Linked DNA regions of Homo sapiens: all the other regions are linked to region 2. The links come from fine-mapping of genetic effects on gene expression. A gene starts in region 2. Each other region holds a variant in brackets. All regions are shown on one strand. Distances are between the middles of the regions.

Region 1 (8,260 bases), 64 kb before region 2:
AAATCCCATCTCTACTAAAAATACAAAAAAATTAGCCAGGCATGGTGGCGTGTACCTGTAATCCCAGCTACTCAGGAGGCTAAGGCAGGAGAATCGCTTGAACCCAGAAGGCGGAGGTTGCATTGAGCCAAGATTGCACCATTGCACTCCAGCCTGGGCGACAGAGCAAGACTGTCTCAAAAAAAATAAAAAATTAAAAATTTTAAAAAATTTAAAAAAAGATTCAGAACTCTTAAACATAATATTAGCAGACAGGCTGGGTGCAGTGGCTCACTCCTACAATCCCAGCGCTTTGGGAGAATGAGGTGGATCACTTGAACCCAGGAGTTGGAGACCAGCCTGGGCAAACAGTAAGACGTAGTCTCCACTACAAATAAAAAAAATTAGCCAGTGTGGTGGATGTGCCTGTGGTCCCACCTACTCTGGAGACTGAGGCAGGAGGAATCCTTGAGCCCAGGAGTTTGAGGCTGGAGTGAGTTATGATCACACCTGGGTATAGCCACTGCACTCCAGCCTGGGCGACAGAGCAAGACTCCGTCTAAAAAAAAAAAAAAAAATTCATAAACTTTATAAAATGTATAAATTGAAGTCGATAAACTGAACTTCACTGAAATTAAGAATTTTTGTTCATCCAAAGGTTTCGTTAAGGGAATGAAAAAAGGTTGGGTGCAGTGGTTCATGCCTGTAATCCCAGCACTTTGGGAAGCTGAGGCAGGAGGATCACTGGAAGCCGGGAGTTCAAGACCAGCCTGGGCAACATGGAGAAACCCCGTCTCTGAAAAAGTTTAAAAATTAACTACGTGTGATGGTACACACCTGTGGCCCCATCCATTCAGGAAGGGTAAGGTGGGAGGATCGCTTGAGCTTGGGAGGTTGAGGCTGCAGTGAACTCTAATCCCGCTACTGCACTCCAGTCTAGGCAACAGTGCAAGTGCCTGTCTCAAAGAAAAAAAAAAAAAAAAGCCGGGTGCAATGGCTCATGCCTGCAATTCCAGCACTTGGGAGGTCAAGGCAGAAGGATCCTTACGCCCAGGCTTTCTTTTCCTTTTTTTTTTTTTTTTTTTGAGACGGAGTCTCTGTCGCCCAGGCTGGAGTACAGTGGCACAATCTTGGGTCACTGCAACCTCCGCCTCCTGGGGTCAAGCGATTCTCCTGCCTCAGCCTCCAGAGTAGCTGGGATTACAGGCGCACACCACCACGCCCAGCTAATTTTTCTATTTTTAGTAGAAACAGGGTTTCACCATATTGGCCAGGCTGGTCTTGAACTCCTGACCTCGTGATCCGCCTGCCTCAGCCTCCCAAAGTGCTGGGATTACAGGCGTGAGTCACTGTGCCCGGCCAAGCCCAGGACTTCTAGACCAGCCTTGGCAACAAATACCCCATCTCTACAAAAAATAGAAAATGTTAGCCAGGCATGGTGACGTGTACCTATAGTCCCAGCTACTTGTAAGGCTGAGGCGGGAGGATCTCTTGAGCTTGGGAGTCCAAGGCTACATGGCGCTATGACTGTGCCACTGCACTCCACTCCAGTCTGGGCGACAGAGCAAGATCCCAGCTCAAAAAAGAAAATAAAAGGCAAAGATTTCAGCAACTGCCTAGGACTGGGCATTACTGCCCAAGTTCCTTTCAGGGAGGGTGGATCTGGGCAATCGTGGGTCTTGGCTGGGATCTTGGTTTTGGTTGCTCAGCAGAAAACACATTTGCTGCTTCAGGAAAGCACAGCAGCTTCTCCCTCCTGGAGCTGCCTCTCTGGCAAGTCGGCAGAATTTGCTGCACCGTCAGGTGGAATGGAGGGACCGGGCTGACGGCCATCAGCAGTTCTGGCTTCTGCTTTATGTTCACTATTCTTTTCAGCAAATCTGTATCTTCCTGTGTCGTGCTCACAGCCACGTGCCTTCAGCCTCAAGGTACTTCCAATATAGACTAAATCCAAGCACAGAAAATCTGTCTGGCCTTTGGTTCTGTTTAACAAAATACCAAACCAGGTCAGGCATGGTGGCTCACGTCTGTAACCCCAGCACTTTGGGAGGCTGAGGCAGGCAGATCACCTGATGTCAGGAGTTCAAGACCAGCTTCGCCAACATGGTGAAACTCCATCTCTACTAAACATATAAAAATTAGCTAGGCATGGCAGCGCATGCCTGTAGTCCCAGCTACCCTGGAGGCTGAGGCAGGAGGATCACTTGAATCCAGGAGGCGGAGGTTGCAGTGAGCTGAGATCATGCCATTGTACTCCAGCCTGCGCAATAAGAGTGAAACTCCATCTCAAAAAAAAAAAAAAAATCCATCCTGGCCAACATGGTGAAACCCTGTCTGTACTAAAAATACAAAAATTAGCTGGGTGTGGTGGTGTGTGCCTGTAATTCCAGCTACTAAGGAGGCTGAGGCAGGAGGATCACTTGAACCTGGGAGGTGGAGGTTGCAGTGAGCCGAGATCGTGCTACTGCACTCCAGCCTGGTGACAGAGGGAGACGCCCTCTCAAAAAAAAAAAAAAAAAAGCCCGGGCGCGGTGGCTCACGCCTGTAATCCCAGCACTTTGGGAGGCCGAGGCAAGTGGATCACAAGGTCAGGAGTTCAAGACCAGCCTGCCCAACATAGTGAAACCCCATCTCTCCAAAAAAAATACAAAAATTAGCCAGGCATGGTGGCACGCACCTGTAATCCCAGCTACTCAGGAGGCTGAGGCAGCAGAATCGCTTGAACCTGGGAGGCGGAGGTTGCAGTGAGCCAAGATCGCAACACTGCACTCCAGCCTGGGCGACAGAGCAAGACTCCATCTCAAAAAAAAAAAAAAAAAAAAAAGATTAAGGCAATGGCCATTGCTATCCGCTAAAACCATCAGGAGAAAACCTGACAAAGAACTTCATAACAACACCCGAATCCAGTGGTCCACAGAACAGCACAGAAGCAAGCAGATGTTTGCAGCCTATGCACACAGACATACGCACCAACTACCCAGAAAGTTTTCTTGCCATAAAAATTGAACCAGAATCTGACCAAGCTTCTAGATGGAGCTGCTCCTTTAAAGAAGAGAAGGAGGACTATTTCCAGCAACATCACAGGATGCAAAGGGCAAAATCCAGTCTAGGAGAAACTCAATAGGACATAAACTGACTTTCTTCAAACCACAATTACAGGGGGAAAAAAAACAAAAAGAAAATGGGAAACCTGTAAATCAAAAGACACTCAAGATCACAAGTAACTCAAATTACCTGAAAATGAATCACAGACCTAACTGTAAAATGCAAAACTTTAAAACTCTTAAAATACACAGGAGAAGATCTAGCTGACTTTGGGTTTGGTGATTACTTCTGAGATTAAACACCAAAAGCATAATCCACGATAGAAAAAAAAAAAAGAATAAACTGGATTTCATCAAAGTTAAAAACTTTTGCTTTGTGAAAGGCACAGTTAAAACAATGAAAAGACAACCTAGAGAGTGGAAGAAATATTTGCAAAACACCTATCTGGTAAAAAATTGGAATCCGGCCGGGCGCGGTGGCTCAAGCCTGTAATCCCAGTACTTTGGGAGGCTGAGGCAGGCGGATCAGGAGGTCAGGAGATCGAGACCATCCTGCCTAACACAGTGAAACTCTGTCTCTACTAAAAATACAAAAAATTAGCCGGGCGTGGTGGTGGGCGCCTGTAGTCCCAGCCACTCGGGAGGCTGAGGCAGGAGAATTGGTGCAACTTGGGAGGTGGAGGTTGCAATGAGCTGAGATCGCGCCACTGCACCCCAGCCTGGGTGACAGAGCGAGACTCCGTCTCCAAAAAAAAGAAAAAAACAAAAATACGGCCGAGCGCGGTGGCTCACGCCTGTAATCCCAGCACTTTGGGAGGCCGAGGTGGGTGGATCACCTGGGGTCGGGAGTTCGAAACCAGCCTGGCCAACATGGTGAAACTCTGTCTCTACTAAAGATACAAAAAATTAGCAGGGCGTGGTGGCTTGCGCCTGTAATCCCAGCTACTTGGGACGCTGAGGCAGGAGAATTGCTTGAACCCGGGAGGCAGAAGTTGCAGTGAGCCGAGTTCGTGCCTCTGCACTCCAGTCTGGGCGACAGAGTAAGACTTTGTCTCAAAAAACAAACAAACAAAAATAGCTAGGCCTGATGGCGTGCACCTGTGGTCCTACCTACTGGGGAGGCTGAAGTGGGAGAATTACTTGAGCCCAGGAAGTTCAGACTGCAGTGAGCTATGATTGCACCACTGGACTCCAGTCTGGTGACAGAGCAAGACCCTGTCTCAAAAAGGAAAAAAAAAAAAAAAAAGAAAGAAAGAAAAATTCAACAATCAGAAAAAGACACTGAAAAGACAACAAAATGTGTGGACCTTGCTGGATGCTGATTCAAACTTTAAAAAACATTTACAGTCAGGAATATGGGAACAAAAACTGGACATCTGATGCCATTAAAGAGTTAATTGGTTGTAGGTGTGATGATGGTTTTGGTATTAATTTTTTTTAAATGCCCTTACCTAGTAGAGTTACATACTAAAGGACTTATCAACAAAACAGTCTGGCTGGGCACGGTGACTCCCGCACTTTGGGAGGCTGAGGAGGGCAGATCACTTGAGGTGGAGGGTTCGAGACCAGCCTGGCCAACATAGTGAAATCCCGTCTCTACTAAAAATACAAAAATTGGCCAGGCGCGGTGGCTTATGCCT[G/C]TAATCCCAGCACTTTGGGAGGCCAAGGTGGGTGGATCACGAGGTCAGGAGTTCAAGACCAGCCTGGCCAATATGGTGAAACCTCATCTCTACTAAAAATACAAAAATTGGCTGGGCGAGGTGGCGGGCACCTGTAATCCCAGCTACTCAGGAGGCTGAGGCAGGAGAATTGTTTGAACCTGGGAGGCGAAGCTTGCAGTGAGCCGAGACTGAGCCACTACACTCCCGCATGACAGAGTGAGACTCCATCTCAAAATACAAACAAACAAAGAAAAAAACACTGTGATGTCTGAGATTTACCAAAGCTTGATGTGAAGTGGGGTGGGGAAGTGAGTGAGGATGTGCGTGAAATTCAAAAAACCATGGGTTGATAATTATTAAGTCTCAGTGATGGGATGCTCGCTTCCTTCCTTCCTTCCTTCCTTTCCTTCCTCTTTCTCTCTCCCTCTCCTCTCTCTTTCTTTCCTTCTTTCTTTGAGACAGAGTCTTGCTTTGTTGCCCAGGCTGGAGTGCAGTGGCTTGATCTCGGCTCACTGCAACCTCTGCTTCCCGGGATCAAGTGATTCTCCTGCCTCAGCCTCCCGAATAGCTGGAATTACAAGCACCCACCACCGCACCCGGCTAATTTTTGTATGTTTAGTAGAGATGGGGTTTCACTCTGTTGGCCAGGCTTATCTCAAACTCCTGACCTTAAGTGATCTGCCCACCTCGGCCTCCCAAAGTGTTGGAATTACAGGCGTGAGCCACTGCACCTGGCCACCATATTTTTTTTCTTTTTGAGACAGGGTCTGGCTCTGTCATCTGGGCTGGAGTGCAGAGTTGCAATCAGTTCACTACAGCCTCAAACTCCTGAGCTCAAGCGATCCTCCTGCCATAGCCTCCCCAGTGGCTGGGACTAGAGGCACATACCACCATGCCAGGCTAATTTTTTGAGTTTTTAGTAGAGATGCGGTCTTACTATGTTGCCCAGGCTGGTCTTGAACTCCTGGGATCAAGCAATCCACCTGCCTCGGCCTCCCAAAGTTCTGGGATTATAGGCGTGAGCCACCGTGTCTGGTCCGTTTTATACTATTGTTTCTACTTAAGTGTGGTTTGAAACTTTCCCTCCTTAAGCCAGGAGTGGTGGCTCATGCCTGTAATCCCAGCACTTTGGGAGGCCAAGGTAGGCAGATCACGAGATCAGGAGTTCGAGACCAGCCTGGCCAGCATGGTGAAGCCCCCGTCTCTACTAAAAATACAAAAATTAGCCAGGCATGGTGGTGTGTGCCTGTAATCCCAGCTACTCGGGAGGCTGAGGTAGGAGAATTGCTTGAACCTGGGAGGCGGAGGTTGCAGTGAGCCAAGATTGCGCCACAGTACTGCAGTCTGGGCGACAGTGCAAGAGTCTGTCTCAAAAACAACAACAACAACAACAAAGGCCAGGAGCAGTGGCTCACGTCTGTAATTCCAGCACTTTGGGAGGCCGAGGCAGGCAGATCACGAGGTCAAAAGATCGAGACCATCCCGGCCAACATGGTAAAACCCTGTCTTTACTAAAAAAAAAAAAACAAACAAAAATTAGCCAGGCGTGGTGGTGCACGCCTGTAGTCCCAGCTACTCGGGAGGCTGAGGCAGGAGAATCACTTGAACCTGGGAGGCGGAGGTTGCAGTGAGCCGAGATCGCGCCATTGCACTCCAGCCTGGGCGACAAGAGCGAAACTCTGTCTCAAAAAAAGAAAGAAATTTTCCCTACTTAGGAAAGAAAGAAGACAATTAAAGAAAAACTACCTGGTTGAGTCTCAACTTCTCCTTTGTGGCACTTGGAATGAATATCTGTGCACATCCCCAGCTGGTATCTATCTTTGTCCAGCAGCCTGGGAGCCACAGAGGGTGAATGTGTGTCACTTCCCTCTTTGCTCAAGGCCCAGAGCAGCGCCTGGCAGTGCAAATGCTCTTGGCCAACAGTTGAATGAGTGGGGATCTGGGGGCCTCCGGGGAGGAAACAGTGAACTCTGCCCTACAGAGCTGAGGAAAGGCTTCTCAGAGGAAGTGATATCCAGCCCTGACCTTGAAGAATAAGGAGGGCTGGAGTATATGCAGAGAGGGGGAAGGGTGGAACAGAGAGGTGCCAGGGGAAACTGGATGAGCAAATGCCCAGAGGGAGGAGATTGCTTATGTTGGGTGGCTGGAGCGTAGACTCTGATGGCTGCGTAGAGACAAGTGCTGCTGCGTGGGTCTGATGAGGACATTAAGGCAAGGAAGGCCAAGCACAGTGGCTCACACCTGTCATCCCAGCACCCTGGGAGGCCAAAGTGAGAGAATCACTTGAGGCCAGGAGTTTGAGTCTGGCCTGGGCAGCATAGTGAGATGCCACCTCTACAACAAATTTTAAAAATTAGCCAGGTATGGCCAGACGCGGTAGCTCACTCCTGTAATCCCAGCACTTTGGGAGGCGGAGGTGGGTGGATCACTTGAGGTCAAGAGTTTGAGACCAGCCTAGCTACCATGACGAAACCCCATCTCTACTAAAAGTATAAAAATTAGCCAGACATGGTGGATGTGCCTATAGTGCCAGCTACTCATGAGGCTGAAGCAGCGGAATCCCTTAAACCCAGGAGGCGGAGGTTGCAGCGAGCTGAGATCACCCTGCTTCACACTAGCCTGGGCAACAGAGATTGTGCGGAAAAAAAAAAATTAGCCAGTTATGGTGGTATGCACCTGTAATCTCAGCTACTCAGGAGACCAAAGCAGGAGAATCGCTGGAGCCTAGGAGTTCAAGACCAGCCTGGGCAACATAGTGAGACACCGTGTCTACAAAATATAAAGTTAGCCAGGTGTGATGATGCTGGGCTGTGGTCCCAGCTACTTGGTTGGCTGAGGTGGGAGGACTGCTTGAGCCTGGGAGGTTCAGGCTGCAGTGAGCCGAGATGGTGCCACCACATTCCAGCCTGGGGTGACAGAGCGAGAATCTGTCTCAAAAAAAAAAAAAAGGGGGGAGCCAGGAGCAGTAGCTCATGCCTGTAATCCCAGCACTTTGGGAGGCTGAGGTGGGCGGATCACCTGAGGTCAGGGGTTTGAGACCAGCCTGACCAACATGAAGAAACCCCGTCTCTACTAAAAATACAAAATTAGCCGGGCATGGTGGTGCATGCCTGTAATCCCAGCCACTCGGGAGGCTGAGGCAGGAGATCACTTGAACCCGGGAGGCGGAGGTTGTGGTGAGCCGAGATCGCGCCATTACACTCCAGCCTGGGCAACAAGAGCGAAACTCCGTCTCACAAAAAAAAAAAAAAAAAGAAGGCAAGGAAGGAAGCCAGGAGTTTGTCCTGGGGGGCGCTGGGGAGCCATGGGAGGGCTGAGTGTAGAAGGACCCCTGAGGAATGGGGGGGCAGAGCGTGGGCTGCAGTGGGAGGCTGATGGAGGGTCCTGGCAGGGGAACTGAGGCAGGTGGGCATGACGGGAGAGAGGACAGAACAGCCTGCGGCTGCAGATCCGGCTCACCCTTCCACTCCAGGTTTCCGCGGCCCCTCTCCAGGTGCTCCCGCAGGCGGTGCGGGCAGGAGAATAGCAGGAAGGTGAGCTCCTTGTTGGCCGCCTTGTCCTGCTGCTGCCACCGCT
Region 2 (8,214 bases):
CATAGTGGCCCAAGCACCGGTCCTGGGTGTCCAGCCAGGCCTGGGGGAGGTAGAGACAGTTTGGAAAGGGGTTCGGGAGGAGCTGGGGCAGTTCAACCCCTACCCAGAATCCTCTAGGAGGGGACGTCTGTCTCCCTCTGCCCCATCAGCTAATTCTTTTCCTCCTATTGCTTTAAAAAAAAAGTTTGTGGTAAAATAGAGCATTTCAAAGTGTATAGTTCAGCAGTTTAGTGGCATTCTGTGCATTTACAGTGTTGTGTAACCATCACCACTCTAGTTCTAGAACATTTTTTCATTTTTTTTTTTTGAGACTGAGTCTTGCTCTGTCACCCAGGCTGGAGTGCAGTGGCATGATCTCAGCTCACTGCAAGCTCCGCCTCCTGGGTTCACGCTATTCTCCCGCCTCAATCTCCTGAGTAGCTGGGACTACAGGCGCCCGCCACCACATGCGGCTAGTTTTGTTTTTGTATTTTTAGTAGAGACGGGGTTTCACCATGTTGGTCAGGCTGGTCTTGAACTCCTGACCTCAAGTGATCTGCACGCCTTGGCCTCCCAAAGTGCTGGGATTATGGATGTGTCAACATCTTTAATTCATTCAATTAGGGTCTCAACTGAGTCCTTGGGCTGGTGCCACAACAGTGGCACCTATTTGGAGTCCACTTTGGGAGGCCGAGGTGGTCTGAGCCTAGGCATTCAAGACCAGCCTGGGCAACATGGTGAAAGCTCATCTCTACAAAAAATACAAAAAGTTAGCCGGGTGTGGTGGTGAGTGCCTGTAGTCCCAGCTACCTGGGAGTCTGAGGTGGGAGGATCACTTGAGCCCAGGAGGTAGAGGCTGTAGTAAGCCAAGATCACGCCACTGCACTCCAGCCTGAGTAACAGAGCAAGGCTCTGTCTCAAAGAAAAAAAATTTTTTTACCACATCTCACTCACCACATCTCCTCCATATTTCTTTCTTTCTTTTTTTTTTTTTTGTTTGAGACAGAGTCTTGCTCTGTCACCCAGGCTGGAGTGCAGTGGCGCGATCTCTGCTCACTGCAAGGTCCGCCTCCTGGATTCACGCCATTCTCCTGCCTCAGGCTCCCGAGTAGCTGGGACTACATGCGCCTGCCACCACGCCTGGCTAATTTTTTTGTATTTTTAGTAGAGATGGGGTTTCACTGTGTTAGCCAGGATGGTCTTGATCTCCTGACCTCGTGATCCGCCCGCCTCGGCCTCCCAAAGTGCTGAGATTACAGGCGTGAGCCACTGCGCCCGGACTTCTCCTCCATATTTCTTTCTCATCCTGGTCACGTCTTCCCTGATGCTAAATCCAAAGCACACTGCTCACTTGCTCCTTCTACAGACTCCCCTAGCATCTCTGATGTCACATATTCCTGATTTTTCTCTTACTGGCCCTTCTTTCTTTTTTTTTTTTGAGATGGAGTCTTGCTCTTGTCTCCCAGGCTGGAGTGCAATGGTGCGATCTCAGCTCACTGCAACCTCCGCCTCCTGGGTTCACGTGATTCTCCTACCTCAGCCTCCCAAGTAGCTGGGATTACAGGCGGCCGCCACCATGCCCAGCTAATTTATATATTTCTAGTAGAGATGGGTTTTTACCATGTTGGCCAGGCTGGTCTCGAACTCCTGGCCTCAGGTGATCCACTCGCCTCGGCCTCCCAAAGTGCTGGGATTACAAGCATGAGCCACTGTGCCTGGCTTCTCCTTTCTCTTTAAAGCAAAAAAGTTACTTAGAAGTTCCAAACTCAAACGCCCACAGGGAGAGAGACATCTGTGAGAAAGTCAGGGATATTTGAACATGAACTGGGCATCAGATGACATTAAAGAATGATTGTTGGCCGGGCATGGTAGCTCACATCTGTAATCCCTGCACTTTCCCACGCTGAGACGGGAGGATTGCTTGAGCTGAGGAGTTTGAGACTAGTCTGGACCTACACAGCAAGACCCCATCTCTACAAAAATAAAAGTAAAAAATTTGCCAGTCATGATGATGCACACTTGTAGTCTCAGCTAGTCAGGAGGCTGGGGTGGGAGGATTGCTTGGGTCCAGGAGTTTCAGGCTGCAGTGAGCTATGAACGCTACTGAATGCTAGCCTGGGCGACAGAGTAAGATCCTGTCTCAAACAAACAAACAAAAAACAAAAAGAATGACTTAATGTTAAGTGTGGTAACAGACCATGGTAGTTTTGTAACAAAATGAGCCCTTATCTGTTAGAAGAAAGGATTCAAATATTTATAGGAAAATACTGTGACATCCAGGATTTGTTTAAATTACTCCAAAGAAAATACAGAAGGAAACAGCGCTGGGATAAATGTTGATGATGGTTGAGGCACAGTGATGGGTAAACAGGAGTTCAAAATAAATGCTAATTATTCTGTGCAAGTTGGAAAGCTTCCCCCCAAAAGAAAAACAAAATTCCAAAAGAATGTCCAGAGGGTTCCAGGAGGCCTGAGAAGAGGGCCTGGATGAGAAGAGGAGCTTAACGATTCATGGAAAAGACAGGAGCTATTGGTCCCAGATGACTTTTGTCAGGGAAGTTGAGCCAAATGTTGACACATTTTGGAATTTTATTTTCAAGAGGACCTCCCGGATGTTTACATGGAATCAATTGTCCAGCATTTCACATAAAAAAAAAATAAAGTTCACGCCAAAGAAAACATGTTTGTTGGTTGAGTCTGGCCCAGAGACTGTACGGTTGAGAACTTTGCTGGTGTAGGCAAGACCACGGGTCTGAAATGCAAGGACTCAAGTCCAAGTCTCAACTTCACTTTTTATGTTTTATTTTTATATTAATAGAGATAGGGCCTCACCATGTTGCCCAGGCTGGTCTCAAACTCCTAGGTGCGAGTGATCCTCCTGCCTCGGTCTCCCAAACTGCTGGGATTACAGGTGTGAGCCACTTGCCTGGCCTCAACTTCTTTTTTTTTCAGGGGGGACAGGGTCTTATTCTGTCACCCAGGCTGGAGTTCAGTGGTATGATCACTGCACCTCCCAGGCTCAGGTGATCCTCCCACCTCAGCCTCCCGGGTAGCTGGGACTACAGGTGTGTGCTGCCATCCTCGGCTAATCTTTTGTTTTCTGTTTCCTTTTTTTTTTTTTTTTTTTTTTGAGATGGAGTTTTGCTCTTGTTGCCCAGGCTGGAGTGCAGTGGCGTGGTCTCGGCTCACTGCAATCTCCACCTCCTGGGTTCAAGCGATTCTCCTGCCCCAGCCTCCCAAGTAGCTGGGATTACAGGTGCCTGCCACCACGCCCAGCTAATTTTTTGTATTTTTAGTAGAGATGGGTTTCACCATCTTGGCCAGGCTGGTCTCGATCTCCTGACCTCATGATCCGCCCGCCTCGGCCTCCCAAAGCGCTGGGATTACAGGTGTGAACCACTGCGCCCAGCCATTTTTGTATTTTTTTTGGAGACAGCGTCTTGCTCCGTTGCCCAGGCTGGAGTGCAGTGGTGCAATCTCAGCTTACTGCAACCTCTGCCTCCTGGATTCAAGCAATTCTCCCACCTCAGCCTCCCAAGTAGCTAGGATTACAGGCAAACACCACCACGCTCAGGTAATTTTTGTATTTTAGTAGAGATGGGGTTTCACCATGTTGGCCAGGCTGGTCTCGAACTCCTGACCTCAGGTGATCCGCCCACCTAGGACTCCCAAAGTGCTGGGATTACAAGTCTGAGCCACCACGCCTGGCCCAATGTTTTGTATTTTAGTAGAGACGAGGTTTCACTATGTTGCCCAGGCTGGTCTCGAATTCCTGAGCTCAGGCGATCTGCCCGTCTTGGCCTCCCCAAGTTCTAGGCTGTGCCAGGGTTCTGATCCAGTTCCTTCCACTTGGATCATTGCTCTGGCCTCCTGCCCTCCCCCTCAAAGAAGCCTAAGCTCCTTTCGCCTGGGTGCTGGGGGACCCTGGGGGATCATGAGAGCCCCGTGAAGGAATTCTGAGAGTGCCTGGGGAAACGACAGAAAGTTTGAGGTGCCCTACTCATTTGCAGGAACCCCACGAGGGTTCTGGGGGCCTCTGAGGGGTCATGGGAGTCCTAGGGAGGTTCTGAGGACCCCCAGGGGATCATGGGACCCTCACGAGGACTTCAGGGGTTCCTGAACAATCATGGGAACCCTATGGGACATTCTGAGAGCTAGAGAGATCATAGGAGCCCCGTGAGGGTATTGTGAGGGGCCATAAGTAATTACAGGAAGTCCTGATGTGGCTGGGTGCAGTAGCTCACGCCTGTAATCCCAGCACTTTGGGAAGTCGAGGTGGGTGGATCACTTGAGGCCAGGAGTTCGAGACCAGCCTGGCCAACATGCTGAAACCTTGTCTCTAGAAAAAGTACAAATATTAGCTGAGAGTGGTGGCGCGCGTCTCTGGTCCCAGTTACTTGGGGGGCTGAGGTGAGAGGATGGCTTGAGCCCAGGAGGTTGAGGCTGCAGTGGTGTGATAGCGCCAGTGCACTTCAGTTTGGGCGACAGAGTGAGACCCTGGCTCAAAAAAAAAAACAAAAAAAAAACCCAACCCAAACCGGAAGTCCTGATGTATTCTAGGCTCCTGAGAGTTCCGATGAGGTCACATGAACCCCACGAGTATTGAGGGGTCCTATGGGATCACGGGGGCTCCATGGAAGTTCTGAAGGTCTCTGGGTAATCAAAGGGATGAAGGGAGTCCCTCAGGAGGTCTGGGGTGCTCTGGAGGCCCATGGAAGCCATAGGATGTTTTGAAGAGTCGTGGAAAGACAATGGGGGTTGTGGGTCACTGGAGCCTCACAGGAATCCTAAGGGGTCTGGTGGGTGGCGTCAGGTTCTGAGGGGACCCTGAGGAATCACGAGAGCGTCTAGAGGAGTTCAGGAAAACCGCGGAAACACTACGAGGAGTTCAGGATCAAGGGGCAAGAGAACCAGTGGGGAAGACCGGAACAGACTAAAAGGCTGCCACCGCCAAGGCTCAAGGGAGCGTCCTACAGGGCGCGATCCTATTGGGCGGCGGGAATCACGGGGACTAAGAGAGGCGGAGCGGCTGAGCTACCGCAGTGGATGACGGGACTCCCCGCGAAAAACCGGGCGCCCAGGCCTGGGGAACGCAGCGAGCAGCGCCGGCCGGGCAGACTCTCACCAGTGCGCATGCGTGGCTCTCCGGCACCGGTCCGTACTCCAGCGAGGTGAAGATCTCGCGGGCGCGGGGCCCTGCACGCGTCGCAGCCATCGCCTACCCCGAACGCTTTCCGCGAAGACTGCGGGGCGCTCTGTGTTAAGGGGAACCTTGAGGTCCGAAGAGCGACACCTCCGGTTCCAGCCCAAAGGGGCGGGGCTAATGGGAATGGGGTGGGGCTACAAGATACAGAGAGCAGCCACGCCCACACTTTTTCCTTAGGACCCGATGGCCCCGCCTACGTCCCCCACGGGGAAGCGTATTTAGGAGCATGCGCACTGCTTAAAACGGGGAGGAAGGGGAGACGGCGATGTGGGTACTTTGCGAATAGTTAGGAGGGCTCCGGATTTATGAGGATCGGCGTGGCCGGGCACGATGGCTCTTGGCTGTAATCCCAGCACTTCGGGAGGCCGAGGCGGGCGGATCACCTAAGGTCGGGAGTTCGAGACCAGCCTGACCAATTTGGTGAAACCCCGTCTCTACTAAAAATACAAGCATTAGCCGAGCTGTGGTGGTGCGCGCCTGTAATCTCAGCTACTCAAGAGGCTGAGGCGGGAGAATCACTTGAACCCAGAAGGTGTACGTTTCAGTGAGCCGAGATCGCGCCACTGCACTCCAGCCTGGGTGGCAAAGGGAGACTGTGTCTAAAAAAAAAATAGTAATAAAAAAAAAGGGTCGTCCTATTGATGCGTCTTCCCAGTGCCTTGTTTTATAGTAGCAGGAAGTGCAGGTTTTGTTTTACCTTTTATTTTCTTGAGACAGGGTCTCCCTCTGTCGCCCAGGGCTGGAGTGCAGTGGTCCGATCACGGCTTACTGTCGCCTCGACTTTTCAGGTTTAAACATTACTCCTGCGTCAGCCTGCACAGTAGCTGGGACTACAGGCAGGTGCCATCAAGCCTGGCTAATTTTTTTTTTTTTTTTTTTTTTGGTAGAGACAGGATCTTGCTATGTTGCTCAGGCTGGTCTCGAACTCCTGGGCTCAAGCGATCCTCCTACCTCGGCCTCCCAGCCTCAAAGTGCAGCTTTTCTAATTATATTGACTAGAGGTCTAGATCTAGATCTAGACCTGGCGGGTCTAGATCTGGACGTATTAGGATCTAGAGCTGGCAGGAAGTGATAATTCAAAGATAAAAAGGGTACCTTTTAGGATGGACATTGAGATTAAGGTTTGGAAAATGCAACCTTCACTGCAAAGTAAGGGGGCCAGTTTTGGTTGTGGAAAGAGTGGAAGTCTGGCGCTTTTTTTTTTTTTTTAAGAGATGGGGTGTGGGACGTTATCTCATTGTATTGCCCAAGCTGGTTTCGAACTCCTGGCCTCAAGCGATCCTCTTGCCCTGGCCTTCCAAAGTGCTGGGACTACCGGTAGGAGCCACAGCGCCCAGCCGGAAGTGTGGCTTTCATAGATACAGGAAGTGTGGCACTCAGGGATCCGCCTTGGGGTTTATTTTTGATTGATGCGAGGGGCGTGGCTTGTCGATAACGCGATACCAGCTTGTGAATGAACACTGGGGTACTCGGAAGTGTGGCATACTCCAGTCCTGTGTTTACCGATAGACCGGAAGTGTGGCTTCGTTTACAGTTCGGCACGTAGGACGGAGGGTAGTGCGTCTAGAGACACATATTCCCCACGGATTTGACGATGGTGTTCGGTCTTGAATGGAAATGTAGTCTTAGGCCAGTCTTAGGTTTTTGAACAGGATAGTAGGTATCCGGAGTCGATTGAGGGCCAGAGCAGGCACTGGGGTTCGGATCCTGGGCAAAGTTTCCCACGTTGAGGGTCTCGAGGACGCCTAGATCTCTTTCCCAGGGCCATGGCGAACCCGAAGCTGCTGGGAATGGGGCTAAGCGAGGCGGAGGCGATCGGTGCTGATTCGGCGCGATTTGAGGAGCTGCTGCTGCAGGTGCAGTGACCGGACCCCTGGATCCTTGAGTATTCGGGGATTTTGGCGGGGTGCTCAAAGATGGGACTGCAGTTCCCAGAATGCACTAAGGCGGGAACCAGGCCTCGGGGAATTGAGGTTAATGGGCTTCAAGTTTGCTAAGAAATGGGAGTGGGGGGCCGGGCGCGGTGGCTCACACCTGTAATCCCACCACTTTGGGAGGCCGAGGCGGGCGGATCACGAGGTCAGGAGATCGAGACCATCCTGGCTAACACGGTGAAACCCCGTCTCTACTAAAAATACAAAAAATTAGCCGGGCGTGGTGGCGGGCACCTGTAGTCCTAGCTACTGGAGAGGCTGAGGCAGGAGAATGGCGTGAACCCGGGAGGCGAAGCTTGCAATGAGCCGAGACCTCGGCACTGCACTCCAGCCTGGGCGACAGAGTGAGACTCCGTCTCCAAAAAAAAAAAAAAAAAAAAAGAAATGGGAATGGGGTTGGGGTTGTTCTTCTAGTTCTCAAAGGAGAAAGGGGACCTAAACCGTCTAATTTCTCGCGTTATCCACAGCTCTCATGCATAAGAATTGCTCCATTTGAGGAACAAATGAGGGGTCTGATGGCACAGACTCCGAGCCTGGAGGTAGTTTTCCTTTATACAGGCCTCGAAGGAGCTCCAGCAAGCCCAGACAACCAGACCAGAATCGACACAAATCCAGCCTCAGCCTGGTGAGAAAGGACACCGGAGAGAGAGGGACAGGAGACCCAGGGAGAGGACAGAGAGAGGAGGAAGGAAAGAGACACGAAAATAAAGGCCTAGGGTGGGGGTGGGGTGAGCAGACACCCACAGAGATCATCCTAGGACAGAAAGGAGTTGGAGGACAGAGTAGGAGTAGGTAGGGGGCCAGAGAATCAGAGATAGGAAGAGGCCAGGTGCGGTGGCACGTGCCTGTAGTCCCAGCTACTGGGGAGGCTGAGACAGGAGAATTGCTGGAACCCAAGAGGCAGAAGTTGCAGTGGGTGGAGATCGCACCACTGTACTGCAGCCTGGGTGACAGAGCGAGACTCTGTCTCAAAAACAAAACGAAACAAACAACAACAACAAAGATAGGAAGAGAGGCTGGGCACAGTGGCTCACATCTGTAATTCCATCACTTTGGGAGGCCGAGGTGGAAGGATTGCTTGAGGCCAGGCATTCA
Region 3 (8,260 bases), 250 kb before region 2:
AAGAACAGGACTAACACCAATACTCAACTGGTGTTTACTGTCCTTATTTTCTTTTCCTTTTTTGACAGGGTCTTGCTCTGTCATCCAGGCTGGTGTGCAGTGGTGAAATTATAACTCACTGCAGCCTCAAACTCCTGGGCTCAAGCCATCCTCCTGCCTTAGCCTCCGGAGTAGCTGGGGCCACAGGCATGTACCACCATGACTGGCTGGTTTTGTTTTTTTTGTTTTTTTTTAACGTTTTTTGTAGACAGGTTCTCATTATGTTGCCCAGGCTAGTCTCAAACTCCTGGGCTCAATTGATCTTCCTGCCTTGACCTCCCAAAGTGCTGGGATTACAGGCATGAGCCACTGCACCCAGCCTGGAGTCATCTTCTTGCTCTGTAACTCCTCGCTGTGTGACTCTGGGAAAATCACTTCCCTTCTTTGAGCCCCAGTTACCAACTCATCAAAGGAAGGTCCTCATCCCAGTCCCCTTTCTTTGCCAGGTGACCCTGGGCCAGCCTCTGCCTCTCCCTGAGCCTCAGTTTTTCTTTTCTTTTTTTTTTTTTTTTTTTTTTTTTGAGATGTATTCTTGCTCTGTCGCCCAGGCTGAAGTACAGTGGCACAATGTCAGCTCACTGCAACCTCCACCTCCCGGGTTCATGCGATTCTCATGCCTCAGCCTCCCGAGTAGCAGGGATTACAGGCACACACCACCATGCCTGGCTAATTTTTTTGTATTTTTAGTAGAGGCAGGGTTTCACTATGTTGGCCAGGCTGGTCTCGAACTCCTGACCTCATGATCCGCCCACCTCGGCCTCCCAAAATGCTGGGATTACAGGCATGAACCACCGTGCCCGGCCAAGCCTCAGTTTTTCTTCTGACACTAAGGCGCTGGAGAGGACGGTCTTTGGAGATGGGGCAGGGGTCCCCAGAACCAGGGAGGGCTGGCCGCCCTACCTCCCACATGTGTCCTGAGATGGGGCAGTCGGCCCAGGAGTGCTCCACGCTGAGGCCCAGCTTCCCGTTAGAGAAGACGATTAGGGTGAAGGATTTGTCAAACCAGCTGTCAGGGAGAGTTCAGATGGGTCACCAAGAGCGAGGGGCACGGGGACCTCAGAGTGCTTTCTGTGGGACTTGAGGGGGTTTTCTAGATGGGAAGATGTGGGAATCCATTGGGGTGCTGGTATGGGGATCTCTAGGACCATTGGGGGTCCCCAGTAGTGGCCCTGGAGGTCTCCAAGACATGTCTGGGATTTAGAGTTTGGAGATTGTTTTTTTGTTTGTTTGTTTGTTTTGAGATGGAGTTTCACTCTTGTCGCCCAGGCTGGAGTGCAGTGGCGCGATCTCGGCTCACTGCAACCTCCGCCTCCCAAGTAGCTGAGGGTTCAAGTGATTCTCCCGCCTCAGCCTCCCAAGTAGCTGGGATCACAAGCATGCACCACCATGCCCAGCTAATTTTTGCATTTTTAGTGGAGATGAGGTTTCACCATATTGGCCAGGCTGGTCTCAAACTCCTGATCTCAGGTGATCCGCCCCTCTCAGCCTCCCAAAGTGCTGAGACTACAGGCATGAGCCACCATGCCCAGTCTGGAGTTTGGAGATTTTTAGGAAACTTGCCGAGGAAGGTTCAAGGCTTTTGGGGGTGCTGGGAGGTCAGCGGGACCCCCCTGGGGCCTAGGAATTCAGTGATGCCTGCCAGGCCTGAGAATCTCTAGGTCTGGAAGTCTGGGTCTAGGGCCATGGATTTGGGGTGCCTGCATTAAGGCCTGAGGATTGAATGGTTCAAGTTCTGAGGCTGAGGTTGCCAAGTCTGGGGTCCCTGGGCCTAGGGGTCCTGGGTTTGGTGGTCCTCAGATCTGGGGTCTCTGGGTCTGTGATGCTGAGTTCTCTGGGTCGGAGGGTCCAGCTCAGGGGTTTGGGAGTCTCAGATTTGGGGGTCACTGGGTCTGGTTTATAGGTCTTGGGTCCCAGGTTGAGGGGTTCCCCAGGTCAGAGGTCTCCAGGTCCCAAAGCACTGGGTCTGGGGTCCTCAGCTCTATGCAGCCCCTGGTCTACAGACTCTGCAGGTGTGGGCTCCAGGGTCTGGCTGTCTACTGTCAGGGGTCCTAGGTCTGATACTGGATTCTCGGGTGCCACATCTGGGGGCCCCATCCCAAGACTCACTCACCGATCATGGCCCCGGCCGGCCAGCAGAGCATGGGCGTAGGCATCCAACGACGCTGCCGGGTCCTCCCTGGTGAGCCCCGCGGGCTCAGCATCCAGTGACACAAAGAAAGCGGCCCCTTCCACCGCCTCCAGGGCCTCCGCTGCCTGGGTCTTCAGGGATGTCCGCACCTGGGCCCACGTGCCCCTGGAGGGCCCGGGATGTGCCTGAGTCCATCCTGCCCAGCCGCCACCTGGCCCCACCCTGCCCTTCCACAGTCTCAGGACACTGGCGGCCTCTGAGAGCCCCTGACCCCTGACCCCTGACCCTTACCTGGGAGCAGCTGTCAGAGCTGCCAGATGTTCCTCGTGGGGGCAGGCCGGTGAGGGATCATCCAGGATTCTCTGAAACTGCTGCTCCAGGGCTCTCGGGGAAAGCAGGCTGTTTCGGGAGTGGGTCCCCATGCGGAAGAATCGGCCCCGGTGGAAGACAGCCACGTGTTGGCTGTCATGGAGGTGGCGGATGTAGTCTAGGGGTGGCGTTGGCAGAAGCATGGGGGCAGGAAGGCCAGACACATAAAAATAGTGACCATTTATTATATACTTCTTAGGTGTCGTCAGTTGTTCAAAGTACCCTAGTAATCATCAGCACCCTAGGACTTTTATTTACTTAGTATTTGGAGACAAGGTCTCGCTCTGTCGCCAGGCTGGAGTGCAGTGGTGAGATCTCAGCTCACTGCAGCCTCAACCTCCGGGGCTCAGGTGATCCTTCCACTTCAGGCTCCCGATTAACTGGGGCCACAGGTGCATATCACCATGCCTGGCTAATTTTTAAATTTTGTATATAGACCGGATCTCACTACGTTGCCCTAGGCTGGTCTCGAACTCCTGGCCTAAGCAATTGTCCACCTCGGCCCCACAAAGTGCTGGGATTACAGGCATCAGTCACTGCGCCCAGCCCCTAGGTACAATTATTATCCCACTTTAGTGGAAGCTGAGGCTCAGAGAGGGTAATAACGTGCAGAAGGTCACACAGCAAGGAAGCAATGGTTCCCAGCTCAGTCAGGCGGACTCCAGAAAACATGCTCTTAGCCACTATATTGTTCTGCCTCCATCAGTGGGGACAGGAGAGGGTCTCACCTTTTTGGACCCCTGGAATCCGCGTGGTGTTGAAGATCTTCTCGTACTGGGCAGAGCATAAGGGGCGCATTCCCATCAGCAAAGTCTGCAGGAAACCGTGGGCTGTGAGCTGCCTTCCAGGACCCACGTGGCCCAAAGGCCACAGGACCACACCTCCATCCCTAACCCACTGGGGCCCTCTCACCGGGGGTATCTCCTGGCGGTTCAGGCGGTGGCGGTACAGGAGGAGGGCATGGACGGCATTCCCAGCGCGAGCTGCCTGCAGAGGCGTGGGTGTGACATACAGGAAGTCCTGGGGACCAGGAGAGGGGATGGCAAAACACCCAGGGTCAGGTTTGCCCCCGATGGAGCCACTGACCCAAATACAGGTCCTGACCCCAAAAGAGGGTGGAATGATGAATCCCAGATGGCGCGTCTAGATCCAGGTCACTGAGCATGACCGTCACATTCCGCCCAGGTACCCCCCAACCCTAGACCTGGGGCCTATGAACCTCACCCCTCCCCTTCTCACCATCATGTAATAGTTGCTGTTCACCATCAGCGGATTTCGGGAGCGCAGGTACACAAATTCCTCCCACCAGTCACTGACCTGGGAGCGGGGTGGGGAGACACACAGTGAGGGGCTGGGGCCTGTTGGGGGAGGGACAGTAGGACAGGGAAGGCCCCAGATGCTCCTGCGTCAGGCAGGGAGGATAGAGCCAAAGAAGTCAGCCATCGTAGTCAGTAACTAGCGATCACCTAGAAATCCATCCATGGGGGATCAGTTAGCTAAACCCTGTTATACTCCGGCAGTGGAATATTACATAGCTGGTGGAAATAACAAGGTACAGCTGGGCACGGTGGCTCCCGCCTGTAATCCCAGCACTTTGGGAGGCTAAGCGGGTGGATCACC[T/C]GAGGTCAGGTGTTCAAGACCAGCCTGGCCAACATGATGAAACCCTGTCTCTACTAAAAATACAAACATTAGCCACACGTGGTGGTGCACGCCTGTAATCCCGGCTACTCGGTAGCCTGAGGCAGGAGAATCGCTTGAGTCGGGGAGGCAGAGGTTGCAAGGAGCTGAGATCGCACCATTGCACTCCAGCCTGGGCAACAAGAGTGAAACTCCGTCCCCCCCAAAAAAGAAAAACAGAACATAAATGTAAAATTTATAAAACAATAAATATGTGAAATAATATACATATGTGTAAATACATGAAAATTGTGGCCTTGCCAATACCATGATAAAATTCAAACAATGAAAAACACAAAAGAAAGCACTGTGTCACGGTTTAGCTGCTCTTGTAGGGTTTTTTGTTGTTGTTGTTGTACATAAAAAAATGGTGCGTGTGTCACTGGCAGTTGGCTTGGAGGTACAATAAAATATACAGGCTGGGCGCAGTGGCTCACACCTCTTATCTCAGCATTTTGGGAGGCTGAGGTGGGAGGATAGCTTGAGCCTCGGAGTTTGAGACCAGTCTGTGCAACATAGCAAGACCCCATGTCTACAAAAAATTTAAAAATTAGCCAGGCTTAGGGGCACATGCCTGTAGTCCCAGCTACTCAGGAGGCTGAGATGGGAGGATGGCTTGAGTCTGGGAGGTCAAGGCTGCAGTGAGCTTTGATCACGCCACTGCACTACAGCCTGGGTGACAGAGTGAGACCCCTTCCAAGAAAGAAAAAGGAAAGAGAGAGAAAGAGAGAAGGAAGGAAGGAAGGAAGGAAGGGAGGGAGGGAGGGAGGGAGGGAGGGAGGGAGGAGAGAGAGACAGAAAGGGAGGGAGGGGGAGAGAGAGAAAGATAGAGAAAGAAAGAAAGAAAGAGGCCGGGCATGGTGGCTCACGCCTGTAAATCCCAACACTTTGGGAGGCCGAGGCAGGCGGATCACGAGGTCAGGAGGTCGAGACCATCCTGGCTAACACGGTGAAACCCCATCTCTACTAAAAATACAAAAATACAAAAAAAAAAAAAAAGAAATTAGCCAGGTATGGGAGGCTGAGGCAGGAGAATGGCGTGAACCTGGGAGGTAGAGCTTGCAGTGAGCTGAGACGGTGCCAGTGCACTACAGCCTGGGCGACAGAGTGAGACTCCATCTCAAAGAAAAAAAGGAAGGAAGGAGACAGAAAAAAAGGAAGGAAAGAGAGAGAGAAGGCAGGCAGGCAGGCAGGAAAGAAGGTAGGAAAGGAGGGAGGGAGGGAGGGAAGGAAGGGAAGAAAGAAATGAGTGTGTGTGTGTGTGTGTGTGTGTGTGTGTAAACAGAATCTTGTCCAAAAGTGTGAAGAAAAAAATATTTAACCAGAAAAGCAAGGCCTGCATTCCCTTTTACTTCTCCAGATATTTCGTCCCCTTCGCTGGGTTTGACCAACTGAGGCTTCCACATAGCTGCCTCGTGGGGCTCTGCCGGGGACCCTCTTCCCTTCCCCTCTCACTCTTGCTGCAGCTTTTCTCATCCCAGCCCAGTGTCTCAATGACCTACAATGGTAGGTCTCACGGTAGCTTCCTCTGCAGCCTCCCGCCCTCCAGTCTTTCCCCCACACCAAAGCTGACCCTGCCCCTTCCCTGCTCCAAACCCTCCCATGGCTCCCTAGTACCCCCAGGAAAGAGTCCAGGATCCTCAGTCTGGAGTTCAGGCCTCTCCCACCACTCCTCACCATTCAACTCCTTTGGTTTTGTCTTTTTTTTTTTCTTTTCTTTTTTTTTTTTTGAGACAGAGTCTTGCTCTGTGGCCCAGGCCGAAGTGCAGTGGCGCGATCTCAGTTCAGTGCCACCTCTGCCTCCTGGGTTCAAGCAATCCTCCCGCCTCAGCCTCCCGAGTAGCTGGGATTATAGGCGTGTGCGCCACCAGACCTGTTTAATTTTTGTATTTTTAGTAGAGACGGGGTTTCACCATGTTGGCCAGGCTGGTCTTGAACTCTTGACCTCACGTGATCCGCCTGCCTTGGCCTCGCAACCTGCTGGCATTACAGGCGTGAGACATTGCACCAGGGCTAAGTCCTGGAATTCTGGTTCAAACTTTGGAAGATCAAGGGTGAAGCTCAGAATACTGGAGCATCTATACCCCAAACTTCAACATTAAATATATAGAGAGAGCATATATATGTTATGAGCATATATATATAAATAAATATATAAGCCTATATATAAATAAATATATATTTATTTATAATTTATAAATAAATATATATTTATTTATAATTTATAAATAAATAAATATATATTTATAATTTATAAATAAATATATATTTATAATTTATAAATAAATATATATTTATAATTTATAAATAAATATATATTTATAATTTATAAATAAATATATTTAATATATTTATAATATTTATATATTTATTTATAAATTTATATATAAATATATTTATATATAAATTTATAAATATTAATATTTGTATATAAATATAAATATATATATTTATAAATAAATATATATATTTATATATACACTATATATTTATATATAAATAAATATATATACATATATATTTTTATATATATATAAATGTGGAGGTTAGGATATAGATGTATGTGAGCGGGGCTCAGGGTATTGACCCTTGGGGGCTGGGGGCGTGTGGGTTGTGGGCGTGTCGTGGGGCAGGGCGTATAACTCGCAAGTTTAGCAGGCGAGCTCACAACCTTAGCCCTTCAGGTGGGGCGTTGGTGGCGGTGGCGGGACTCACATAATTGGACGCCCACCAGGACTTGAGCCGCAGGTACCACTGCAGCAGCGACGCCTGCAGCCTCAGGAATTCCTGCGCCAGGACCGCGGTCCAGTCGAAGTCCTCGTCGGAGAGGATGGGCCGGACCGACTCCAGGTACTAAAGGGGAGAAGAGGGCAGGTCACGCCCCCGGCCCGCCCCGGCCGCCCCAGCCCGTCTGCGCGCTCCCAGGCCCACCTTGCGCACGGTGTCCTGCACAGAGGGCACGGGCTGGCGTGGCAGGGAGCGCTGGTAACTGAACAGCATCGGGTGGCGGCCAGAGAAGATGCGGACCAGGGCCTGGGGAGGAGGAGTTACCGGGTCATTAACCCCTCACCGGAGCCAGGGAGTTGACGGGGCAGGGGTCGACAGTGGGACAGAAACCCAAAGAGAAGGACACAGAGACTTAAGAGCATCGGAGACCCCAAGAGAGAAAGGAACAGAGACCCAGAGACAGGGGACAGAGACCCAGAGAGAGGGGGACAGAGACCCAGAGAGAGAGGGGGGCAGAGACCCAGAGAGAGTCGGGGGTAGAGACCCAGAGGGGGGGACGGAGACACAGAGAGAGAGGGGGACAGAGACCCAGAGAGAGGGGGACAGAGACCCAGGGACAGAGGAGGACAGAGACCCAGAAAGAGAGGGGGAAGAGACCCAGAGAGAGAGGGACAGAGACCCAGAGAGAGGGGGACAGAGACCCAGAGAGAGGGGAATAGATAAGCGGGTCCCAGGAGAGCCTGAGCAGGGCTATGCCCCTCCCATACCAGCCAGGTCTTGGTGGGGGAGGACATGGCTCCGTGGGGCTCAAGAAGCCAGCCGTGGTAGGACAGAAGCAGCCTCAGGGCCACGTGCAGTGTGAAGATCAGGGCTCCCCACAAACACGAGGCAAACAGCGCGGCTGCCAGGACCCCCCGGAGCCCGTGGTGTTGTCCACCCCTGCGGGGAGAGAAACAGAGGCTGGGCCTGGGTCTCCTGGCCTCAGAACCTCCCTCCCTTCCAGCCCCCTCCAGCCCCTGCGCTGATCTTTTGGCTGTCAGACAGAGAAACCCATTTTTGTCATTTTAGTAGGTGTGAGCTCTGTCACCCCCTCCAGCCCCCTCCCATTGTGGCAGCACCAAGCTTCCAAAGTCACTTTCCATGGAAGTTGGTAGGTGTTTAATAAATGACAGCCATTATTTCTATTGAGGGGACACTTTTTCCTTCCAGCTATCACTACTCTAAGGCAATAGTTCTGAAACTGTGGCTCCTGGGAGCACTGCCTGGGAGCTTGTTCGAAATGCATATTCCTGGGCGCCTTTAAGACCTAACAAGCCAGAA
Region 4 (6,388 bases), 240 kb before region 2:
ACGGGCAAAGCTCATACTTTTTTTTTTTTTTTGAGACAGAGTCTCGCTCTGTCACCAAGGCTGAAGTGCAGTGGCACAATTTCGACTCACCGCAACCTCCGCCTCCCGGGTTCAAGTGATTATCCTGCCTTAGCCTCCTGAGTAGCTGGGACTACAGGCGCGCACCACCACACCCGGCTAATTTTTGTATTTTTAGTAGAGACGGGGTTTCACTATGTTGTCCAGGCTGGTCTCAAACTCCTGACCTCAGGTGATCTGGCCACCTCGGCCTCCCAAAGTGCTGGGATTACAGGTGTAAACCACCATGCTTGGCTATTTTTCTTTTTTCTTGAGACAGGGTGTCACTCTGTTGCCCAGGCTGCAATGCAGTGGCATGATCTCAGCTCACTGCAGCCTCGACCTCCTGAGCTCAGGTGATCTCCACCTCAGCCTCCTGGGTAGCTGGGACCACAGGTAAGTGACACCACACTTGGCTAATTTTTTGTTATTTTTAGTAGAGACGGGGTTTCACCATGTTGCTTAGGTTGGTCTCAAACTCCTGGGCTCAAGTGATCCTCCTGCCTTGGCCTCCAAAAGTGCTGGGATTACAGGCATGAGCCACTGTGCCCAGCAAAGCTCACACCTTTTTTTTTTTTTTTTTTTTTTGAGATGGAGTTTCGCTCTTGTCACCCAAGCTGGAGTGCAATGGCGCAATCTCGGCTCACTGCAACCTCCACCTCCCGGGTTCAAGCGATTCTCCTGCCTCAGCCTCCCTAGTAGCTGGAATTACAGGCTCCTGCCACCACGCCCAGCTAATTTTTTGTATTTTTAGTAGAGACAGGGTTTCACCCTGTTGGCCAGGCTGGTCTTGAACTCCTGATCTCAGTTGATCCACGTGCCTCAGCCTTCCAAAGTGCTGGGATTACAGGCATGAGCCACCATGCCTGGCCTAATTTTTGTATTTTTAGTAGAGACAAGGTTTCACCATGTTGGCCAGGCTGGTCTCGAACTCCTGACCTCAAGCGATACACCCACCTCAGCCTCCCAATGCCCAATGTGCTGGGATTACAGGGGTGAGCCACTGTGCCCGGCCTCACCTCCTTTTTCTTCATGCCATGCCTTTATTAATCTGACCCAATGTAAGTCTCAGAGGTTACTTTTCTTTAGCAGGTACACCACAATGACAGAGGAACTTACTGGGTGAAGGGAGAGTGATTGGGGGTTACTGGGCTGGAGTGGGGGGACCTCACCAGTCAGGCAGCAACTCTTTGATCTTCTCCATCAGTCCTAAGGAAGGATCCAGCTGGAGGAACCAGGCAAGCTGGATGGCACTGAAGAGGAAAAGCCAACTGAGGGGGCTGGCAGGAAACACACCGGTGAGAAAGTCATTCTGTGGGGAGGAAAGGGCATCCATTGAATCATCTGCCCTCTCCTCTGAGCCCCTGTTCTGTGCCATCCCCAGACATTACTGAGCACCCAGTGCGGAGCCCTGAGCTGGAGGCTCAAGATCTAGTAGGGAACAGAGAGATCCAGGTCCTGCCCTCAGCGAGGTCAGACCAGAATGAAGTAAGTATTAATTGCTATAGGGCAAGAAATAGGAGGAGCCCTGTGCTGCCAAGTTACAGTTCGAGGGCATCAGGGAGGGCTCCCTGGAGGAGGATATTCTGAGGCAGGACCTGGAAGGGGAGGCTGTCAAAGGCAGAACAGTCCGGATGTGGTGGCTCACTCCTGTAAACTCAGCACTTTGGGAGGTCAAGGAGGAGAATCCCTTGAGCCCAGGAGTTCAAGACCAGCGGTGGCTCACGCCTGTAATCCCAACACTTTGGGAGGCTGAGGCAGGCGGATCACTTGAGGCCAGGAGTTCAAGACTGGCCTGGCCAACATGGTGAAATCCGTCTCTAGTAAAAATACAAAAATTAGCCGGGCATGGTGGCAGGCACCTGTAATCCCAACTACTTGGGAGACTGAGGCACGAGAATCGCTGGAGCCCGGGAGGCTGAGGTTGCAGTGATCCAAGATCACGCTACTGCACTCCAGCCTGGGTGACAGAGCAAGACAAGGTCTCCAAAAAAAAAAAAAGAAAGAAAAAAAAATTAGGCGCAGTGGCACACACCTTAGTCCCAGCTACTTGGAAGGCTGAAGCAGGAGGATCGCTTGAGCCCAGGAGTTCAGGGATGAAGTGAGCTGTGATGGTGACACTGCACTCCAGCCTGGGTAACAAAGTAAGTAAGACCCTGTCTCAAAAAAAAAAAAAAAAAAGAAAAGAAAAGAAAAAGAAAAATGATCCCTATTCAGAGCAGGGTCTGGAGCTCAGTAAGGCCTTCTAGAAGTACCAGGGCATGGAATGAATGAGGAACGACCAACAGCACTGCGTTACTAACTAAACTCCTTTGGAAGCCTCAGAGAGATAACTAACGTTTAATGAGCACTTACTACATTCCAGGTGCCATTTACAAGGATTAACAATTTAAATCCTCCCCAAACCATGTGAAATAAGTACTAAGATGATCTCATTTTACAAATGAAAACACTGGGGTTTGGCCGGGCGCAGTAGCTCATGCCTGTAATCCCAGCACTTTGGGAGGCCTAGGCGGGTGGATCACCTGAGGTCAGGCATTCCAGACCAGCCTGGCCAACATGGCAAAACCCCATCTCTACTAAAAATACAAAAATTAGCCAGGCGTGGTGGTGGGAACCTATAATCCCAGCTACTCAGGAGGCTAAGGCAGAAAAATTGCTTAAACCCAGGAGATGGAGGTTGCAGTGAGCCAAGATCCTGCTATTGCACTCCAGCCTGGGCAACAGCAACAGAGTGAGACGCTGTCTCAAAAAAAAGGCCAGGGGCAATGGCTTATGCGTGTAATCCCAGTGCTTTGGGAGGCCAAGGTGGGCGGATCACGAGGTCAAGAGATCGAGACCATCCTGGCCAACATGGTGAAACCCCGTCTCTACTAAAAATACAAAATTAGCTTGGCGTGGTGGCACACGCCTGTAGTCCTAGCTACTTGGAGGCTGAGGCAGGAGAATCACTTGAACCCAGGAGGCAGAGGTTGCAGTAAGTCGAGATCACGCCACTGCACTCCAGCCTGGCAACAGACTGACTCCATGTCAAAAAAAAAAAAAAAAAAAAAGGCCAGGTGCAGTGGATCATGCCTGTAGTCCCAGCACTCTGAGAGGCCAAGGCGGGTGGATCACCTGAGATCAGGAGTTCGAGATCATCCTGGCCAACATGGTGAAACCCTGTCTATACTAAAAATACAAAAAATTAGCCGGGCCTGGTGGCAGGCACCTGTAATCTCAGCTACTTGGGAAGCTGAGGAAGGAGAATAGCTTGAACCCATGAGGCGGAAATTGGAGTGAGCCAAGATCATGCCATTGCAATCCAGCCTGGGCAACAAGAACAAAACTCCGTCTCAAAAAAAAAAAAAAAAAAAAAATTGTGCATTTTTCTCCATGTAATGTTATCATATATATGTGTGTGCATGTATATATTTATAGGTCTATAAATATGTATGTATCTATGTATGTATGTATTTAAACACACGAAAAGGATGGCCACATGTTTGTTTTTTTTTGAGACGGAGTCTCGCTTTGTTGCCCAGGCTGGAGTGCAGTGGCACGATCTCGGCTCACTGCAAGCTCCGCCTCCTGGGTTCACGCCATTCTCCTGCCTCAGCCTCCCAAGTAGCTGGGACTACAGGTGACTGCCACCACGCCCAGCTAATTTTTTTGTATGTTTAGTAGAGACGGAGTTTCACTGTGTTAGCTAGGATGGTCTTGATCTCCTGACCTCGTGATCTGCCCGCCTCGGCCTCCCAAAGTGCTGGGATTAGAGGCGTGAGCCACCATGCCTGGCCAAGGATGGTCACATGTTAACACTTTAGTTGGTAGACTGGCCTGAGGCCCAAGGAGTCCCAGGGTAAGGGCGGGAGAGGGATTCGGAGTTCAAGGCAGTGGCTGTTTGCCAACTGGAACAGATTATACAACCAACAAGACCACAGAGGTTCAGTTTAGCCTGCTGAAGCATCCCAGCTTCAGGAGATCCTCCTGGCCGCCGGCTCCCACCCCCTTTTTTTTTTTTTTTTTTGAAACGGAGTCTTGCTCTGTCACCCAGGCTGGAGTGCAGTGGCGCAATCTTGGCTCACTGCAATCTCTGCCTCCTGGATTCAAGTGATTCTTCTGCCTCAGCCTCCCAGGTAGCTGTGATTACAGGTGCCTGCCACCACACCCGGCTAATTTTTGTATTTTTAGTAGAGATGGGGTTTCACTATATTGGCCAGGCTGGTCTTGAACTCCTGACTTCGTGATCTGTCTGCCTTGGCTTCCCAAAGTGCTGGGATTACAGGCGTGAGCCACCGCACCTGGCCTGCCACCCCCTTATTTAACTGCAACACCCCCACATCACTCTTCTCTACCCGATTTATCATTCACCATAGCATGTGTCACCATCAATATCAGATGACACTATAGAATGTCACCATACCCTATATTTTGCTCATCTGTTTTATTGCCTTCTGTTTTGCTCATCTGTTTTATTGCCTTCTCCCCCAACTCGAATGAGAACTCTATAAAAGCAGGATTCTGTCTTTATTATTTATTTATTTATTTATTTATTTATTTATTTATTT[T/AT]TTATTTTATTTTATTTTTTTTTGAGACGGAGTCTCGCTCTGTCGCCCAGGCTGGAGTGCAGTGGCGCCATCTTGGCTCACTGCAAGCTCCGCCTCCCGGATTCACGCCATTCTCCTGCCTCAGCCTCCTGAGTAATTGGAACTACAGGCACCCACTACCACACCAGGCTAATTTGTGTGTGTGTGTATTTTTAGTAGAAACGGGGTTTCACCGTGTTAGCCAGAAGGGTCTCGATCTCCTGACCTCATGATCCGTCCGTCTCAGCCTCCCAAAGTGTTGGGATTACAGGCATGAGCCACCGTGCCCGACCTGTCTTTATTTTTTTAATAGAGATGGGGTCTCCCTATGTTGTCCAGGCTGGTGTCCAAGTCCTGGGCTCAAGTGATCCTCCTGCCTCAGCCTCCCAAAGTGCTGGGATTAAAGCCGTGAGCCCGCAGTGCCCAGGCGTGATTCTGTCTGTTGATATCTGCTGTGTTCTCCATGCTAAAGAGGGCCAGGCCCTTACCGGATGCCCCATAAATATATGGTGAATGAATGAAGAACAATATCAGAAGCTAACACTCAGACCTCGCCATGGGCCAGGACATAGAAGAATTAATTTAGTCTTCAAGGCTATCCTGTGAGGGAGGTGCTGTCAACACCCATGTTTTCCACGAGGGGAAACTGCGACTCCAAGAGAGGTGCTTGCCCAAGATGACACAGCTACTAAGCGGTGGAGTCAGGATTCAAACTCAATCATGACCCCACAGGTGTTCCAGACCCCAGTTCACACACAGAGGATGTGACAAGCAGGGAGTCCCTGTATGGAGACAGTGCAAGAGTTCTAGAACCAGAAACCCTGGGACAGACATGGGTGCTGGTTACACATTGGGCATGCGCATTCCAGAACAGGGACAGAGCAGGAGTTTGGGCCGGGCGCGGTGGCTCATTCCTGTAACCCAAGCGCTTTGGGAGGCAGATCACTTGAGGTCAGGAGATCGAGATTAGCCTGGCCAACATGTTGAAACCCCGTCTCTACTAAAAATACAAAAATTAGCTGGGCGTATAATCCATGCCTGTAATCCCAGCTACTCGGGAGGCTGAGGCAGGAGAATCGCTTGAACCTGGGAGGTGGTTGCAGTGAGCCAAGATCACCCCACTGCATTCCAGTCTGGGCAACAGAGTGAGACTCTGTCTCATAAATAAATAAATAAATAAGCCAGGCATGGTGGCGTGCGCCAATAATCCCGGCTACCTGGGAGGCTGAGGCAGGGAATTGCTTGAACCCAGGAGGCGGAGGTTGCAGTGAGCTGAGATCCCGCCACTGCACTCCAGCCTGGGCGACAGAGTGAGACTGTGTCTCAGAAACAACAACTACAAAAGAAGCTGGAGATGAAAGGAAGAAATGATAATTTCACCATAAGGGAAGGATATGGAGTTCTAGAAACTGGAAGTGGGTAGTTTTTGGGGGGCCCAGTTCCCCTCTTGGGTGAAAGAAGTGAGCAGAGGTTCTCAGCAGGTGGGGCTGTGGATCCCAGAAGTGAGCCACGGAGAAATTGCTAAAGGGGTCCTGGGAGCAGACATCAAAATTCTAAGAAAAAGGGGTGATAGTCTCCCAGAAATGAACCAGCTGAAATGCCGGAAGTGAGCCTCAGACATCCCGGAAGCAGAAACCTGGATCCCCGGAAGGAAACCGACCAGCACCGCTCCTCACCCAGAAACGTGAGAGATGCCTTTTCCAGGAGCGCAGGCCAGAGAGGTAGATCTCCTGCAGCACAGGGGCACTGAGTTCCACTTCAGC

The links. PIP is the estimated chance that this variant, and not a neighbour inherited with it, causes the effect.
Region 1: its variant is fine-mapped to the expression of PIH1D1 in whole blood (TOPMed, PIP 0.96).
Region 3: its variant is fine-mapped to the expression of PIH1D1 in whole blood (INTERVAL, PIP above 0.99).
Region 4: its variant is fine-mapped to the expression of PIH1D1 in whole blood (INTERVAL, PIP above 0.99).

The regions. Positions count from the first base shown.
Region 1 is chr19:49,514,370-49,522,629 of GRCh38, reverse strand. FCGRT (Fc gamma receptor and transporter) reads right to left here. Exons shown (of 7, transcript NM_001136019.3): 4 at 8,144-8,260. Among named protein-coding and RNA genes, the nearest start is that of FCGRT, 5.8 kb to the right of the region's middle. RefSeq lists an enhancer at 7,746-8,260. The variant G/C (reference allele first, on the strand shown) is at 4,664.
Region 2 is chr19:49,450,312-49,458,525 of GRCh38, reverse strand. It overlaps PIH1D1 (PIH1 domain containing 1), which reads left to right and starts at 6,712. Exons shown (of 9, transcript NM_017916.3): 1 at 6,712-7,041; 2 at 7,678-7,744. The coding sequence starts at 6,952. It overlaps ALDH16A1 (aldehyde dehydrogenase 16 family member A1), which reads right to left and starts at 5,301. Exons shown (of 17, transcript NM_153329.4): 1 at 5,105-5,301; 2 at 1-40. The coding sequence starts at 5,194. RefSeq lists enhancers at 3,749-4,708, 6,442-6,491, 6,502-6,781, 6,406-7,084.
Region 3 is chr19:49,700,303-49,708,562 of GRCh38, reverse strand. CPT1C (carnitine palmitoyltransferase 1C) reads right to left here. Exons shown (of 20, transcript NM_001199753.2): 5 at 7,708-7,879; 6 at 7,145-7,246; 7 at 6,929-7,066; 8 at 3,776-3,853; 9 at 3,449-3,556; 10 at 3,265-3,349; 11 at 2,459-2,654; 12 at 2,150-2,332; 13 at 940-1,045. Among named protein-coding and RNA genes, the nearest start is that of CPT1C, 13 kb to the right of the region's middle. The variant T/C (reference allele first, on the strand shown) is at 4,157.
Region 4 is chr19:49,692,307-49,698,694 of GRCh38, reverse strand. It overlaps CPT1C (carnitine palmitoyltransferase 1C), which reads right to left. Exons shown (of 20, transcript NM_001199753.2): 3 at 6,302-6,388; 4 at 1,230-1,369. Among named protein-coding and RNA genes, the nearest start is that of CPT1C, 4.4 kb to the right of the region's middle. The variant T/AT (reference allele first, on the strand shown) is at 4,608.